2 separate regions of the Homo sapiens genome follow, and region 1 is linked to region 2. A link means that fine-mapping ties the variant in region 2 to the plasma level of a protein whose gene starts in the linked region. Region 2 holds a variant in brackets. A gene starts in the other region. All regions are shown on their reverse strands.

What was found. PIP is the chance, under the fine-mapping model, that this variant and not a neighbour inherited with it causes the effect. The UK Biobank Pharma Proteomics Project read protein levels with antibody pairs (Olink). The fine-mapping took linkage between variants from a reference panel, not from the people measured, so its PIPs are less certain.
Region 1: it holds the start of IL5RA, and the variant in region 2 is fine-mapped to the plasma level of the IL5RA protein (UK Biobank, PIP 0.96).

The regions. Positions count from the first base shown.
Region 1 is chr3:3,110,199-3,118,692 of GRCh38, reverse strand. It overlaps IL5RA (interleukin 5 receptor subunit alpha), which reads left to right and starts at 8,319. Exons shown (of 12, transcript NM_175726.4): 1 at 8,319-8,494.
Region 2 is chr2:111,055,336-111,063,895 of GRCh38, reverse strand. All of the region lies in intron 16 of ACOXL (acyl-CoA oxidase like), which reads right to left. Among named protein-coding and RNA genes, the nearest start is that of ACOXL-AS1, 56 kb to the left of the region's middle. RefSeq lists an enhancer at 6,402-6,601. The variant C/TC (reference allele first, on the strand shown) is at 4,128.

The sequences.
Region 1 (8,494 bases), not on the chromosome of region 2:
TAAAAATAGGAATTAGGCTGGGTGCAGTGGCTCACACCTGCAATCCCAGCACTTTGGGAGGCCAAAGTTGGAGGATCACTTGAGCTAAGGAATTAGAGACCAGCACCAGGAACATGGCCAGACCTTGTCTCTACTAAAAATAGATTTTTTTAAAAAAAGCAGCGAAGTGCGGTGGCACAAGCCTGTAGTCCCAGCTCCTTGGGAGGCTAAGGTGGGAGGGTCACTTGAGCCCAGGAGATTGAGGCCGCAGTGAGCCATGATTGTACTACTGCACTCCAGCCTCAGCAACCTAGCAAGATTCCAACTCAAAAATAAATAAAAAAGGACAGTGAAGGGAAAATAATGCTTTCCATAAAAATATGGGTTAGGCTGGGCACAGTGGCTCACACCTGTAATCCTAGCATTTAAGGAGGCTGAAGCAGGAGGATCATTTGAGCCCAGGAGTTTGAGACTAACCTGGGTAACATAGTGTAACTCTGTCTCTGCAAAAAACTTAAATTATAGCACTTTAGGCCTCCTGGGGAAGATATTTGAGGCAATATTTAGACAAGTCAGAAAAAACATAAATATGACCTAATTTTAATATTGTGCAATTTATTCACACCCCTCCCCACCCTCACTTTTCATTGTAAGTGACACTGAGTAATTTGTTTAAAAGAACAAGTTCTGTTTCAAGAATGTATTCTTTCTTTGAAACAACCAAAAGTACCTGTTTGGGGAAAAAGTCATTTGCTAGTTTTGTTCTCATAAAAGTTTAATAGAAGGCAACTAAAGTTTAAGATCTCCCAGAGGACAAATAAAGATATTTCTCAGCAAATGTAGAATCGCAATTTTCATTGGTGCTGGGGGATTTTACACACAAATGCAATTTTATTTTACTTTTAAAAGAGGTAAGTAAATAGACAAATCAATTTTAGCTGCTCTGAAATGTCATACCGGGTCATTAATTTTAAAAGATGAGACTTCAATAATAGTTAAAAGAACAAAGGCCCAAGGGTAAAGACTGAGAATAATCACCTTCAAAATTCTGAATTATCAGCAGCCTCAGATCAGAATCAAGAGGAGCCTAATTCAGTTTCCTTGTGATGTTCTCCATTGCATTTTTTACCTTCAAAATATAGGTTCAAATGGAATTCCCTTTTACAAAAACAGAAACCCTCTTTCCTTAAAGCACGAGGACCTCCTCTGTGTGCTGGATACTAGGATGAATTCTGGCAAAACCAAGCTCGATAAAATAAAGACCTATTGTCTAATCTACATTCAGATCGGAGGTATGAGACTTGCACCTGGCCATCTCTGTGGTGGAGACAGAGATATAAACATAATATTTGGTATGATATAAAATTTAAATGAGGCCAGGCATGGTGGCTCATGCCTGTAATCTCAGCACTTTGGGAGGCCAACGCGGGTTTATCACTTGAGCTTAGGAGTTCGAGACCAGCCTGGGCAATATGACGAAATCTTCTCTCTACAAAAAATACAAAAATTATCCTGGCATGGTGGTGTGCGCTTGTAGTCGTAACTACTTGGAGGGCTGAAGCAGGAGAATCGCTTGAGTGCAGGAGTTCGAACTGCAGTGAGTCATGATTGCACCGCTGCACTCCAGCCTGGGAGACAGAGTGAGACCCTCAAAAAAATTACATATTTTATATATATAACATATATATATAAATATATATATATAACATATATATATAAATATATATATATAACATATATATATATATAATGTTAAATAGACAAATACAAGCAGCAGTTTAATGCACACTTGAGGGAAAGACAAGAGAGAGAGTGATCTTCCCAAATAACATCACATTCAGACTTATTCTGAAATAATCAGGAGTTTCTCAAGAGGAACTCCACACTCACCACCATCAAATCAGACAGTCCAAGTTAAACAATTGTACTGTTTTGTGAAAATAATAATTATGACAATCATGGAATTAAGGTTTTGACATTCTAGGCAATGTGAATTTGGAGAGCATCACAAAGAGTCTGTGCTATGTAAATTCTCTAAGCCTCAGTATACTCATCTGTAAAAGAGGTTTATAGAGCTGTGATGTGATCGTGTGTATAAGGCAACTGACAGTCCCAGGAACATGGTAGCTTCTCTTTTGACTGAAATGGGACATTAATCTACATTAACAACATAAGTTTAGCCCAGGTGTGGTGGCTCATGCCTGTAATCCCAGCACTTTGGGAGGCCGAGGTGGGCAGACCACCTGAGGTCAGGAGTTCGAGAGCAGCCTTGCCAACATGGCGAAACCCCATCTGTACTAAAAAATACAAAAAAAAAAAATAGCCGGGCGTAGTGGCGCACACCTGTAGTCCTGGCTACTCAGGAGGCTGAGGCAGGAGAATAGCTTGAACTCAGAAGGCAGAAGTTGCAGTGAGCCTAGATCGTACCACTGCACTCCAGCCTGGGTGACAGAAAGAGACTCCATCTCAAAATAATAATAATAATAATAAGAAGAAGAAGTTTAATTGTGTAGTTTTTGCTATTGTTTTTACACATTCTGGTTGATTTCCTGTATCTGGTTTTCAGAGCAAAGAACTGGTCTCTGACTAAAGAACTGAAAAAAGGACTAAAGAACTGAAAAAAGCTTAAGCTACTGAAATTCTTTACTGAATAAAGATATGCTTTTAATTTTAGCTACATGGGATAACTCAACAGATTGATTTTACACTAGAATTTTTCTAACGATTACCCAGAATTCTGTTTCAATCCTTTGAGGGTATCTAATCCTGCTAGGGTATTTTTTAATGACAGTTTTATTGAGATATAACTTACATATCATAAAATTCACCTATTCAAAGCGTACAAGTCAATGGTTGTAATATATTCACAGAGTTGGAAACCATCAATACAATCAATTTAAAATATTTGTGTTATCCCAGAAGAAAATCTCATACCCATTAGCAGTAACTTCTTATTTTTCCCAAACTCCCTCCATCCCCCGGCAGCCCTAGGCAACCATGAATCTATTTTCTATCTCTATAGATTTGCTTATCCTGGACATTTCATATAAGTGGAATCATGCAGTGTGTGATCTTTTGTGACTGACTTCTTTTACTTAGCTTCATGTGTTCAAGGTTCATCCATGTTGTAGTATCAGTGCTTCTTTTGATGGCTGAATAATATTTCACGGCATGGATATACCACATATTCTTTATCCATTCATCAGTTGCTGGACATTTGGGCTGTTTTCACTCTTTGGCCATTATAACTAATTCTTCTGTGAATATTCACATATAAATTTTTATGTAGACACATGATTTTAACTCTCTTGGGTGGGTATTTGCCTAGGAATGCAATTACTCAGTCGTATGGGAACTCCACATTTAACCTTTTGACGAACTGCCAGGCTGTTTTCCAAATTGGCCACCTCACTTTACCTCCCCAGCAACAGTATGTGAGGGTTCCAGTGTTTCCACATCTTCATCAACAGTTGTTATTGTCCTTTTCATTTCAGCCATTGGAGTGGGTGTGAAGAGGTATCTCAGTGTGGTTTTCATTTGCATTTCCAATAGCTAATGATATGGAGCAGATGTTCCTAGGCACCTTTGCTGTTGGTACATCTTCTCTGGAGATATGTCTGTTCAAATTCTTTATCCCATGCTTAAACTGGGTTATTTTACTTTTTTCTTTCTATCTTTCTTTCGTTTTTTGAGAAAGGTCTTGCTCTGTCACCCAGACTGGAGTACAGTGGCACGAACACGACTCACCAGAGCCTCAAACTCCTGGGCTCAAGCTATCCTCCCACCTCAACCTCCCAAAGTGCTGGTATTACAGGCTAAAGTGGGTTATTTTTCTTTTTATTGTTTGGTTTTAAGAGTTTTTGACATATTCTAAATAAAAGTTCCTTGTCAGATATGTCTTTGCAAATATTTTTCCCATGCTGTGGCTTGTCTTTTCACTTCCTTGTATTTTATTTTATTTTATTTCAGACAGAGTCTTGCTCTGTTGACCAGGCTGGAGTGCAGTGGCACGATCTCAGCTCACTGCAACCTTCGCCTCCCGAGTTCAAGCCATTCTCCTGTCTCAGCCTTTGAGTAGCTGGGATTACAGGCACCTGCCACCACACCTGGCTAATTTTTGTGTTTTTTAGTAGAGACAGGGTTTCACCATGCTGGTCAGGCTGGTCTTAAACTCCTGACCTCAGGTGATCTGCCTACCTTGGCTTCCCAAAGTGCTGGGATTAGAGACGTGAGCCACTGCATCCGGTCTTTTTTCACTTTCTTCATGGTATCCTTTGAAGCACAAAAGCTTTTAATTTTGGTGAAATCCAGTTTATCTATTTTTTTCTTTTGTTGTGTCTGCTTTTGTATCTTATTGAAGAAACCATTGGGTAGGTGCGGCGGCTCATGCCTGTAATCCCAGCTCTTTGGGAGGCCAAGGTGGGTGGATCACCTGAGATCAGGAGTTCGAGACCAGCCTGGCCAACATGGCAAAACCCCATCTCTAGTAAAAATATAAAACTTAGCCGGGTGTGGTGGCACACGCCTGTAATCCCAACTTCTCGGGAGGCTGAGGCAGGAGAATCGCATGAATCCAGGAGGCAGGGGAGTTGGCAGTGAGCTGAGATCATACCACTGCACTCCAGCCTAGGCGACAGAGTAAGATTCTGTCTCAAAAAAAAAAAAAAAAAAAAAGAAAGAAACAAAATGAAGGTCATGAAGATTTATGCCTATGTTTTCTTCTAAGAATTTTATAGTTTTGCCTCTTACTTTTAGGTCTTTGATCCCATTGGAATTCATTTTTGTCTATGCTGCGAGGCATTCTTTTGCATGTGGATATGCACCACTTATTGAAAGGCTGATCTTTTCCCCGCTGAATTGTCTTGACACTCTTGTCAAAAATCAATTGACCCTAAATGCGAGAGTTTATTTTTGACTCTCAATTCTATTAAATTGATCTGTATGTCTCTAATATTTTTTAAAATAACTTTTTCTGCCTGCATTTGTACAGAATAAAACGTTTGTAAATATAGAAACACAGAATAAAAGTAAGAGAAACACTAACCCTGCCGTGGTAGAATGAACTGTTGGTCCCATTTCTTCACTCCCCACTAGGAGTTGTCCATGTCCACATCCTTATCATGGCCTTATCATGGTGGAATGTACTTTGGGCTTCGTCCATTTGACTCCGGGCTTGGCCATGCAATTTGCTCAGCCTCTTGAGATGTCAGGGAATGTGACATGAGCAGATGCTTGATGCGTGCTTGTGCAGTTGGTCCTGCTCTCTTGCACTTTTGCTGTCACCATAAAAAGATTATGCCCTGGGTAGCCACTGGTTCCAAATGAATGGCAGATACTTGGAACAAATCTGAACTCACTTTGTGATCTGGATCCCAGCCCAAGATTAAGCAGACCCCAGTCAAAACTCAGACACATGGGCTACAAATACATGCCTATCACAGTTTACCACTGAGGGTTCTGTGGTTGCTTGTTCTGTAGCAATAGCTGACTAATACACCTACCACTTAGAGATAACTATTCCTGTTAGTCTGATCTTCTGACCAAAAATAAGACTGTAAAAAAAAATTACATGTGTGTATACCCTCCTGTTGTTTTTACTTAACATTTTTTCATAATACCCTATGTTATTAAAAGTTCTTGATTGGCTCATACCTGTAATCCCAGCACTTTGGGAGGCCAAGGTGGGAGGATCACAAGCCAGGAGTTTGAGACCACCCTGGCCAACATGGTGAAACCCTCTCCCTACTAAAAATACAAAAATTATCTGGCATGGTGGCACATGCCTGCAATCCCAGCTACTCCGGGGGCTAAGGCACGAGAATCACTTGAACCCAGGAGGCAGAGACTGCAGTGAGCCGAGATCCTGCCACTGCACTCCAGCCTGGGTGACAGGGCACCACCCTGTCTCAAAAGAAAAAAAAAAGTTATTGATAAACATTCCTTTTGACATCCACATCACATATTTCAACCTTGAGCAGTTACATATTTCTCTTCACCATTCCTATAGTACTTTTACTATTTTACTATTGTAAAGGTACAATGAATTTTGCTCTCTTTTGTATAAATCTTGATCTACATTTTTCCATTATTTCCATGGAATCAAGTTCTAGAAGTTGATACCTTTAATAAGCTCCTTTAACCAAAGTTCATGGTAGAGCCACTGAACCATGATTTTCGTTTTATTACTATTCATATTTCTATTTGGCTAAACTCACATTGTTTTGCTTAAAGGATGCAGACACATTTAATTTCACTTTTTAAAAAAACGACTTTTGTGAATTCTTCCAGCATGTTCTATCATACTGTCTTTGGACGTTTACACTTTATTATAAAGAATTAAATTATTGCCATAAAAAACCAAACAGGCCTCGCTCAGTGGCTCACGTCTGTAATCCCAGCACTTTGGGAGGCCGAGGTGGGTGGATCACCTGTCAGGAGTTCAAGACCAGACTGACCAGCGTGGTGAAACCCCATCTCTACTAAAAATACAAAAAAATTAGCTGGGTGTGGTGGCGGGGGCCTGTAATCCCAGCTACTCAGGAGGCTGAGGCAGGAGAATCGGTTGAACCCGGGAGGTGGAGGTTGTGGTGAGCTGAGATCGCGCCATTGCACTCCAGCCTAGGCAACAAGACTGAAATTCCATCTCAAAACAAACAAACAACCCCCCCGCAACCCCCCGCCAGAAAAAAAAAAAGTCCCTGCCTCTCATTTTTTCGTTTGTGCTTATACAGAAACATAGAGACAGTGTTTCTGTATGAGCATGTGTTTGCTTTGTTTGTTTGTTTGTTTTTATTGGCGTAGTTAATTAAAGATCATATACCCAGGAAGGTGGTATGGAAGGAGCAGCCAGATCTAATTTTCTTTATACCCTTCACCGCGCCTAGCATAGTGCATAGGTGCATTCAATGAATATTTGAGTAAATGAATGTAAGAAATATACAGACCATTGGCTGAGTGTGGTGGCTCACACCTGTAATCCCAGAACTTTAAGAGGCCAAGGCGGGTGCATCACTTGAGGTCAGGAATTTGAGACAAGCCTGGCCAACATGGTGAAACCCCATCTCTACCAAAAATACAAAAAATTAGCCAGGCGTGGTGGCGGGTGCCTGTAATCCCAACTACTCGGGAGGCTGAGGCAAGAGAATCGCTTGAACCTGGGAGGCAGAGGTTGCAGTGAGCAGAGATTGCGCCACTGCACTCCAGCCTGGGCGACAGAGTGAGACTTCATCTCAAAAAATATACATATATATATACGGAGAGAGGCCATTAAAGCAGGCTTTTAAGCCAGAAATTACTGTCTTCCCAATGATTAATAAGTATTTTTAAGGTTTCATTAGTGACAAATATGTTACATGTATAAACAGATGGGCAGGACTTAAAAGAGTAGGCCAGATAGTTGATACTATATCTAAACTTTTCTGGGTGCCTCTTAGCAAATAAATGGATCTCTCTCTGTTCCTTGTTTTACTTCCCCTTTCCCCGAGGAAAATCACATTTTTCAGGTCTGACAACAATTTTCAACCTGATAACAATTGCTCCGGTTTCATTTTGGCAACTGCTAAAATGGTCACCTTGGGAACCCCAGGCACACACGCTGACTGTACTTGCACAGCTTCTACACTGAGCCTTTTGGAAATTGCCTCCAGGAAGCCTGTCTCTCATCTCACAAACAGAACCACTGATCCAACCTGGGCCACCATCTTTCTGCATCTGCTCTGTCTGAGACTCTCCCAGTCAGCTCCTAAGGAGACAGGGAATCCTGCATCACTCATCGCTTAGGCTAGACTGAAGGTCTCCTTCCAAAGGCAACTACTTACTACTCTCTGCCGTGGGTCATACAATAAGCACTACTCTTATCTATTCACACGCTAAGCTACTTTTTTAAAGCCAGCTTTGCTAGCTAGCCACCTCGAAATTCCCCAGAAGGAATCAAACAGAAATGGAACAAAGGACAGGAAAAGCCAAGGAGGTTTGCTGAAATTGAAGCATTCTGAAGACAGCTGGGTGGTAAAATGGATGTGACGTGAGGAAGGTGGTCTTGGGTGCACCCACAGACCAACACTGCCATTGTTACAATTTGTGTAGGATGATCTCAGGTGACAGACAGCAGCAATTTATCACACCCAGAAACGCATCCCCCACACATATTTACTTGAGGGTACCAGACCTGCTCACAAAGCAGAGAAGAGCTAAGGCGGTTCTCTAAGGGCAGAGAATTGCTGCTATTGCCTAGTGAGTGGGGAGAGGGTACTCCTCAGGCCTTACTTCCTATCAAATCATGTGTCAGTGTTGCCTAGGAGACAGAGGCACAGTAACTACTGTAGCCAAACAAGGCACATAAACAAAACAGAAATGCAACGCTTTAGAGTACCCACGGAAAACTTGTTTACCTTGTCACCATGAGTAAAAGTTAATTCCCACTCCTGAAGAGAGCAAACCAACTCTGAAAGAGAGTGAAAATGCAGACAAGACAGTTATCAGATAATGGCTATCTGGACGAGAGATTCTTTCGTTT
Region 2 (8,560 bases):
TCTTGTAGATTCCTTGGAATTTTCTACATAAACAATTATGTCATCTGCAAACAGGGCTACTTTTGTCTCCCTTTATTATCTAAAAGGATATGTCTTTTATTTCTGTATCTTGCCTTATTGCACTGGCTAGAACTCCTAGTACTACATTGAATAGAAATAGTAAGACCAAACTTTGCCTTGTTTTTAGTGTTAGGGGGACAGCATTCAATTTTTCACCACTAAGTATAATGTTAGCTATAGGAATTTTGTAGATACTCTTTTCCAAGTTGGGGAAGTTCCACTTTCTTCCTATTTGTCTAGGAGTTGTTATCATGAGTAATTGTTGAATTTTGTCAAATGCTTTTTTCTGCATCAATTGGAATGATAATGTGATTTTTTTTTCTCTTTTTCCTGTTAATATGAAGAATTAGATTGGTTTATTTGTAAAAATTGAACCAGCCTTGCGTCTTCAGAGCAAACCACACTTGGTCAGTGTATAATTCTTCTCATATATTGCTAAATTCTACCCATTAATATTTTGTTAGGGATTTTTTATGTCTATGTTTATAAGGTATATTGGTCTGTAGTTCTTTTTGGTTCTGTCTTTGTCTGATTTTGGTATCAGGAGAATACTAACTTCAAAAAATGAATTGGTAAAAGTTCTCTCTTCTTCTACATTATGGAAAATATTGTGAAGAACTGATGGATATTCTTCTCTAAATTAACCACTGAAAGTATCTGGGCCTGGAATTTTCTTTTTCTGAATTTTTAAAATTGTGAATTTAATTTACTCAATAGTTATAAGGTTATCCAAATTATCTCATGTTGAGAAAGCTGTGGTATTGTGTGTTTTCGAATAATAGTCTATTTCATCTAAATTGTCAAATTTATGGGCATAGAATTTTCCTTAGTATTATCTTACTACCATTTTGATGTGCACAGAGTATATACTAATATAATCTGTCTCACTCTAGTAGCTTGTGTCTTCTTGTTAGTCTTGCCAGAGGGTTGTCACTTTTATTGATCTTTTAAAAGATCTAGCTCTTTGTTTCGTTGTTGTTCCCTATTATTTTTCTGTTTTCAATTTCATTGATTCTTGCTCCTATCTTTATTATTTACTTACTTCTGCATTCTTTGCATTTATTTTTCTCTTTATATTTTCTAGATTCTTGAGGTGGGAGCTTAGGTCACTGGTTTGAAACTTTTCTGTTTCTTAAAATAAGCTGTAAGTTTCCCTCTCAGCACTGTTTTGGCTATGTTCCACCAATTTGACGTGTTGTATTTTCATTTTCATTCTGTTCAACGTATTTTTATTTCTTTTGAGGTTTTTAAATTTTTTGAGGTTTGCTTTATGTTCCATGTTACAGTCCATCTTGGTTTATGTTCTTGGGCACTTGAAAATAATGCATTCTGCTGTTGTTGGGTAGAGTGTTCCAAAAATGTCCATAGATCCTATATGCTAAGGGTGTTAAGATTTTTTATGTGTTTTGATTTTCTGTCTAGTTGTTCTCTCAATTGTTGAGAGAGGAGTGTTGAAGTCTGTAACTGTAATTGTAGACTTGTCTGTTTCTCCTTTTAGTTCTATCAGTTTTCACATCACATATTTTGTAGCTGTCATGTTTGGTGCATACCTTTAGCAGTGCCCTATCTTCTTGGTGGATTGACACTTTTGTTAATATAGACTGTCTTTCTATGTCTCAATTATTTTCTTTGTTCTGATGTCACTTTATCTGATATTAATATAGCCGCTCTTGCTATCTTTTAATTAATATTTGCATGATGTGTTATTTTTGACCCTTTTGCTTTCAACCTATCTATATCACCCTATACACAGCATATAATTGGTTCATGTTTTTTAATCCACTCTGACCATCTGTCTTTAAATTTTTGCCTTTACATTATTCAAAATTAATATAATTATTAATATATTAAGTTTCAGACTGTCTTTTTATTTCTTGTTTTCTGTTTGTTCTCCTTGTTTTCTCATTTCTTTTTTTTCTTCCTTGGCTTACCATGCATGACTTGGGCATTTTTTAGAGTTTTATTTTGATTTATACATGGTGCTTTGGGGTGCATCTCTCTGAGTAGTTTTTTAGTAGTTACTCCAGGTATTACATTTTGTATATATAACTTTTCATGGTCTACGTGCATCAACAGTTTGAAGTGTGGAAAGTTTACCATCCTTTACATCCTATTGCCCTCCCTTGTTTATAATAGTCTAAAATGTTTTCTCTACATCTATTTAGAATCACATCAGTGTTATAATTTTCACTTCAATTATCAAACATAATTGAGAAAATTCAAAAGGAGAAGGAGAGCTAATTGAATTTACCATCTTTGTTTACCGAATTCTTTCTTCTTTCCTGATGATTCTTGATTCCTTCTTTCATCATGTCCCTTCTGTTTAGAGAACTTCTTTCCACTTTGTTAGTGTACTTATTTGGGTAATCAAGCTAATCTGAGGATAGCTTGACTTCCTCCTAATTCCTAAATGATATTTGCACTGGACATAGGTTTCTGGTTGACAGTTCCTTTTTTTCTAACACTTTAAAAATGTTGTATCACTTCTTCTGACCCCTGTGGTTTCTGATGAGAAATATGCTGTCATTTGAATTGGTTTTCTCTTTAGAGATAAAATGTTGTTTCTCTCATTGCTTTTAAGACTTTCTTTGTCTTCAGTTTTCAGAACTTTAATTAGGATGTGTCTTGGTGTGAATTTCTTTGATGTATCCTATTGGTCATTCACTTCTTGAATCCGTAGGTTTATGGGTTTTGTCAAATTGGGGGATTTTTCAATTATTATTTCTTTGAGTACTTTTTTAGCTCCATCTTCTTTTTTTATCTTTTCCTGGAACCCCAAATGATATAAATTTAGTTTTTGTTATAGTCCCACAGGTCCCTGAGGCTCTGCTCTCTTTGTTTTTCATTCCATCTTCTTTCTGTTGTACAGAGTCAGTCATTTCTATTGTATCTTCCAGTTCACTTATTCTTTCCTCTGTTCTCTCCATTCTGCTGTTGAGCCCATCTACTGAGATTCTTATTTCAGTTGTTATATTTTTCAGTTCTAACATTTCCATTTGGTTGTTTATATTTACTGTTTCTTTGCTGAGATGATTTTATTGGTGATTTTTTATTGTTTCACTTGTTTCAAGTATGTTCACTATTACTCATTGAAGCATTTTTATAATAACTGCTTTAAAACCTTTTCCAGATAATTTTAGCATCACTGTCATCTTGATATTAGTGTCTACCGATGGCTTTTTTCATTCAGTTTGATATTTTCTGGTTCTTGGTATTGTGAGTGATTTTTTGATTGAAAACTATGCATTTTGGTATTCTATGATGAAATTCTGGATCTTATTTAAACCTTGTCTTAGGTAACATCCTGTGATGCTGCACCATCAGGGGAGGGTGATACACTGCAACCTCTGTGACCACCAAGGTTGGGAGATGCTCCTCGTTGCTGCTGGGGTGGGGTGCTGGCTCCCACTAGGCCCCTGCTGATCCCACTCTGGTTGGGAAGGGTAGAGGTCCCTAATTTCTGCTCCCCAGATGGTCTCCACTGACGCTACCAGGGGGTGGCCTCATTACTATTGGAGCCAGTGGTTAAAGTCTTGACTCTCCCCATTTGGCCTTCTCTGACACCACCGCAGTGGGGAGGGGGCAGACTGACCTATTATTGCTGGGTAGAGGAAGAAGTCCAGGCTCCCCAGATGGTCTCCAGTGTCACTGTAGTGAGGCAGGAGGGGAAGGGAGGCCTCATTACTGCCAAGTGGAGATGAAAACCCCAGCTCCCTACTAGGCCTCCTCTGACAACCATAGTGGTGAGGTTGCATTGCCTCATTGTAGTCTCGTGAGTGTGGAGTCTGCACTCCCCACTGGGCCTTTCCTGGCATGGGTGAAGGTGGGACCACATATTTTTCTGTGCTGCCTGGCAGGAGGAGTCTTCTGTTTCCCCTACCCCTTCCCCTCTTCCTCCTCCTTCTTCTCTTTCTCCTACTCTTTCTTCTCCTCATTTTTTTCTCCTCCTCTCCTCCTTATCCTCCTCCTCATTTACCTCCTCTTCTTCTCCTCTTCTTCCTTTCTCTCTTCCTCTTCCTTCTCCTCCTCCTCCTTCTTCTACCCCTTCTTCTCTCTTTTTTTTTTTT[C/TC]CTTTGTGTGCGTTAGCTTTTTCCAGGTTGCCAGCTTCTTCAGCTCTAACTCTGGAATGTATGAGGCACAAACAAAATTCAGGGAGTTCCTGCTGTGTCATTCTTTGGGTCTTGAGGTTCCTAGCTTGGTCTACTTTCTAGTTCTTACCTTTCAGAATCTTTTATGTTTGTTTTAAACGTAATGTCCAGTGTTTTTAGTTGGACTTAGCAGAAGGAATAGGGATGAGTATGTCTCCAGCATCTTCCTGGGAAAAATGTGCATTTTTGAAATATATATTGTATGGTTGGGTGTTATTTTTCATCCAATCTGAGAGCCTTCCACTTTTAATAGAAGGTTTGTCTCACTTATGTAATAAATCTTAATCCTGATATTGAATGTTATGTTTTGTGTACTTTCAAAATGTAACACATTAATCAATTATCAATAGGCTGTTATTAGCTGCCCTTTCCATCAGGCAAGGTTTTCAGGAACACACCAAGTTGCCTTGTTCCCATCCCAATTCCAGTTTTTTACTATTATTATTATTTTATAGAGACAGAGTCTTGCTGTATTGCCCAGGCTAGAGTACAGTGGTTCAATCATACCTTAATGTAACCTCAAATTTCTAGGTTCAGGTGATTCCCCAGCCTCAACCTCCTGAATAACTGGAACTACAGGCATGTACCACCTTGCCTGGCTAATTTACTTTTTAGAATTTTTTGTAGAGATCTATGTTGCCCAGGCTGGTCTTGAACTCCTGGCCTCAAGTGATCCTTCTTCCTCAGCCTCCCAAAGTGCTGGGATTATAGGCATGAGACACTGCCCTGGCTCATCCTGTCATTTTTACAGTTCTAGAAGAGATAAAGGTGGAAAGATTTTCCCAAAGATGAAAACATTCCATCAGGAGACCCAAGAAGAGGAAGTGATTGGTTGACTGGGGCCTTCATGGTGGCCATTTTTCTGACATTTCATCCAGAACTAATTCCCTCCCTCCTTTTTTTATCCTTCCCTTCCTTGCTTCTTGTGTACTGGGCATTTTCCTGGGTTCTGGGAGAGGAAGGGAGCAGATCAAACCAGTATTTTTCTTTTTCCCCATCTCAAAGTTTTTATCTATGGTGCTTTGTGGGTTTCTTTTTTTCCAATAGACTTTTGAACATTGTGAAATTAGCCAAAAAGAAAGCAGCTAAAATTTAGTAAGGGCAAGAGGAAGAGTTAAGCAGGTGCAGAGAGCAGAAATCTTCAAGTCTCTTAACGTTTCCAGTTTTTAATCAGGGTGCAAATGTGGTTGGTTGACGGCAGGGAGCTGCTTCAGTGTGACTGCTAGGCTTTGCTGCCTTCGTCAATCCATCCAGCGTGACTTCCCATATAACTTTAGTGTTTACATCCCCCTCACTGTGTGCTGAAAAGTCTGGGATCCCCCTAGACACCTGGTAATTCTGTTAATGTCTGCTAGTCTGGATCCATATCTCAGAAGCTCCCTGATGGAATTTCTCCGTGCTCTTGGCAAGTCACAAAAGAGATGTCTCCTGGGAACTTTAGCATCTTGATCTCTATTTAAATGGTGAAATGATAAGTCTTGGCCAGGCCCTGTTCTCTCCTCCCACTAACTTTAGTCTCCGAGAGCCAAATTTTGCTCTCAGTTTCCTATATATGACTTCTACCAAATCCTTCTAATTTTCTTTTGTCTCTAGTGATTTCCTCTCCTGCTGTCCTGTCTTCTAAAGCAGTCTGAAATGAAATCTGCCCCCAGAGCTGTGCACAGAGGAAATGGAGAACAGATCATTCAAGAAGGAACACCCCACCCGCAAGCCGTGCTAGACTCGCATGGGTAGGCATCCCCAAAGCGTTGCACCCTCCACGCCTGGGCGGCTCGCTGCTTTTCTGAACACCAGGATTTGTACTTCCTAGCTGGTTCTCCATTTAGATACTTATTTAGATGCTTGACAATGAAGTATCAAGGAGCAGAGCAGGTGTAATGTCCTCATATACTGCTGCCATCTGTGCGCTCATATGCTCCTCTTAGGCAGTCGGGCACATGTAGAGCTTGCTTCTGATGGCATTTGGATTGGAAAGACATTGGCCCATTTCTCCTTATAGCAGAACTTTGTGGAGGAGCTAGGCGAAGTGTAAATGCACAGACAGCAGAGCAGATCTGTTTGTGGCAAGAGAGGGAACCCCTCTGCCTTCCCCCTCCTAATCCCCTACCACCCCTCTCCCTCTCTACTCCTGGCCCCTGGCCTGGACACCATGCTTTCAGAATAATTCTAGAGCAACTATTAGCTGTTGATGGCTTCTGCTGCATTCCCTCCCAGAGACACCTAACTTTGACATTAACTACTGGAAGGCCCGTAAAGTCTTCCGAGCCAAGGAAGGAATATTGAATGCTATAATTTCAAGACAGCTATAGGTCAGCTGGGGAAATGTGCACAGCAAGAATGGAAGTTTCTGGATACCCCTCCCCTGGGAAGGCAGCTGTCTGGGGCCCCTATTTTGGCAGTCAGCTCTCAAGGCATGCATCAGTGCACCTGAAACACTCTATAAATGGAAAAGTCAGAACACAACGTGTCACATCGACACCACCAGCATGCACAGTGGAACCCACACAGTTGGTTAAATTTAAATTCCTGCAGAGACATGGGGACTTAGCTCAAATATCACCTCCTCAGGGGAGTCTTCCCTAAACCCAGGTTGAGTTGAGTGCCCAACTGAGTGCTCCACTAGCTTCCCAAATTCCTTTGCTCTCGGCACTTAGCCCACTCCAAGGTGCTGAAGTGTCTGTCTCACCTATTTGTCAAGGAGCTACCTGAGGGTGAGGGCCACATTTTATGGATATTTGTGCCCTCAGTGCCTAGCACAGTGCTGGACACATAGTAGGCACTCAAAAATGTTTCCGAAGAGGGACCATGCCAGCTGCGTCCAGAAAGCCACCAAAATGACCCTTTTGCTGACTTACTATGGAGCCTGGCATACTACCATGAAATTTTTTTTTTTTTTTTTTTTGGAGACAGAGTCTTGCTCTGTCACCCAGGCTGAAGTGCAGTGGTGCGATCTCGGCTCACTGCAACCTCCGCCTCCTGGGTTAAAGCGATTCTCCTGCCTCAGCCTCCTGAGTAGCTGGGACTACAGGCATGTGCCACCACACCCGGCTAATTTTTTGTATTTTTAGTAGAGATGGGGTTTCACCGTGTTAGCCAGGATGGTCTCTATCTCCTGACCTCATGATCCACCCACCTCAGCCTCCCAAAGTGCTGGGATTACAGGCGTGAGCCACCATGCCTGGCCTAAATATATATATATTTTTTTGAGTTAAAAAGTTAGCCCTATGCCTCAAAGATCCCTTTCCAAAACTGAAGCTCATTAGGAGGGATAATTGTTACCAATAATTTGGGGGGTTGGTTTGAGCTGAGCTTTGCAGAATACTTGACATAGGCTTGGCACTTGCAGGGGACCTCTAGGAGTGAAGAGAGTGAAGTATCCCGGGCTTCAATGGCATAGGAATGAGAGAAAACCATTTGTTGCTAGAAGTGTAGGTCTGAAACCTGATTTCTATGTCACCAGTAGTTCTTCTCCCAACTTTTTTTTTTTTTTAAAGTTGGGGTCTTGCTGTGTCACACAGGCTGGAGGGCAGTGGCATAAACATAGCTCACTGCCACCTCGAACTCCTGAGCTCAAACAATGCTCCTGCCTTAGCCTCCAAATCTTTTCCCTTATTAAATATAAAAACATTAGAATATACTCTTCAAGTGAGCCAGGTACTAGAAAAACACTACCTGACACACAATAGGGACTCAGTAAACATTTGTTGAACAACTTATTTTAGGAACACTGCCAGCCACACTCTTACTTCTTTCTGTGTGGCTCTAGCTTACGAGGATAAGAGAAGGTGGAGGGAAAGCTAGAAGGGGCCAGGGCTGGATTCCAAACCACAGCCCACCCACAACTCTTTATCTGCCACTCTTTATTACCTGTGTTATGGGAACTCTGCCACTCTTTATCAGCTGTGTTATGGGAATTCAGAACAAGGACTGACACTACTGATCCTGGACTGGGTTTGGAAATGCAGTCATACCCCAGAAAAGAATCCCCTTTTTTCCATGTGGAGGCCCAATCCCATTCCCAGCCCCAGATGACTGAATGGTGATGTGGGTACATGTGATGCATTCACAGGGTGTGTGGCCACAACGGGCAGCCCCTGAGTGCCTCCACTTGAGAGGCAGAGGGAAGCCCTTGCTGGTCGGAGCTTAGGACTCTCTCAATGGCATGGGGCCAAGATGAGGTCCTTGGGCATGGCAAGAGCCACCTGCAGAAGGAAGGACATCATGGTTTGCACTGTGCATGATGGAAGGTGTGTGTAGTTAATTATTGGCTGCTAGGTTTGGTGCTTAAACTAGCTACCACCTACACAGGTTGAGAAAAGGAAGAAAAAGCAGTTAGAATGCAGGAAAGAGGGAAA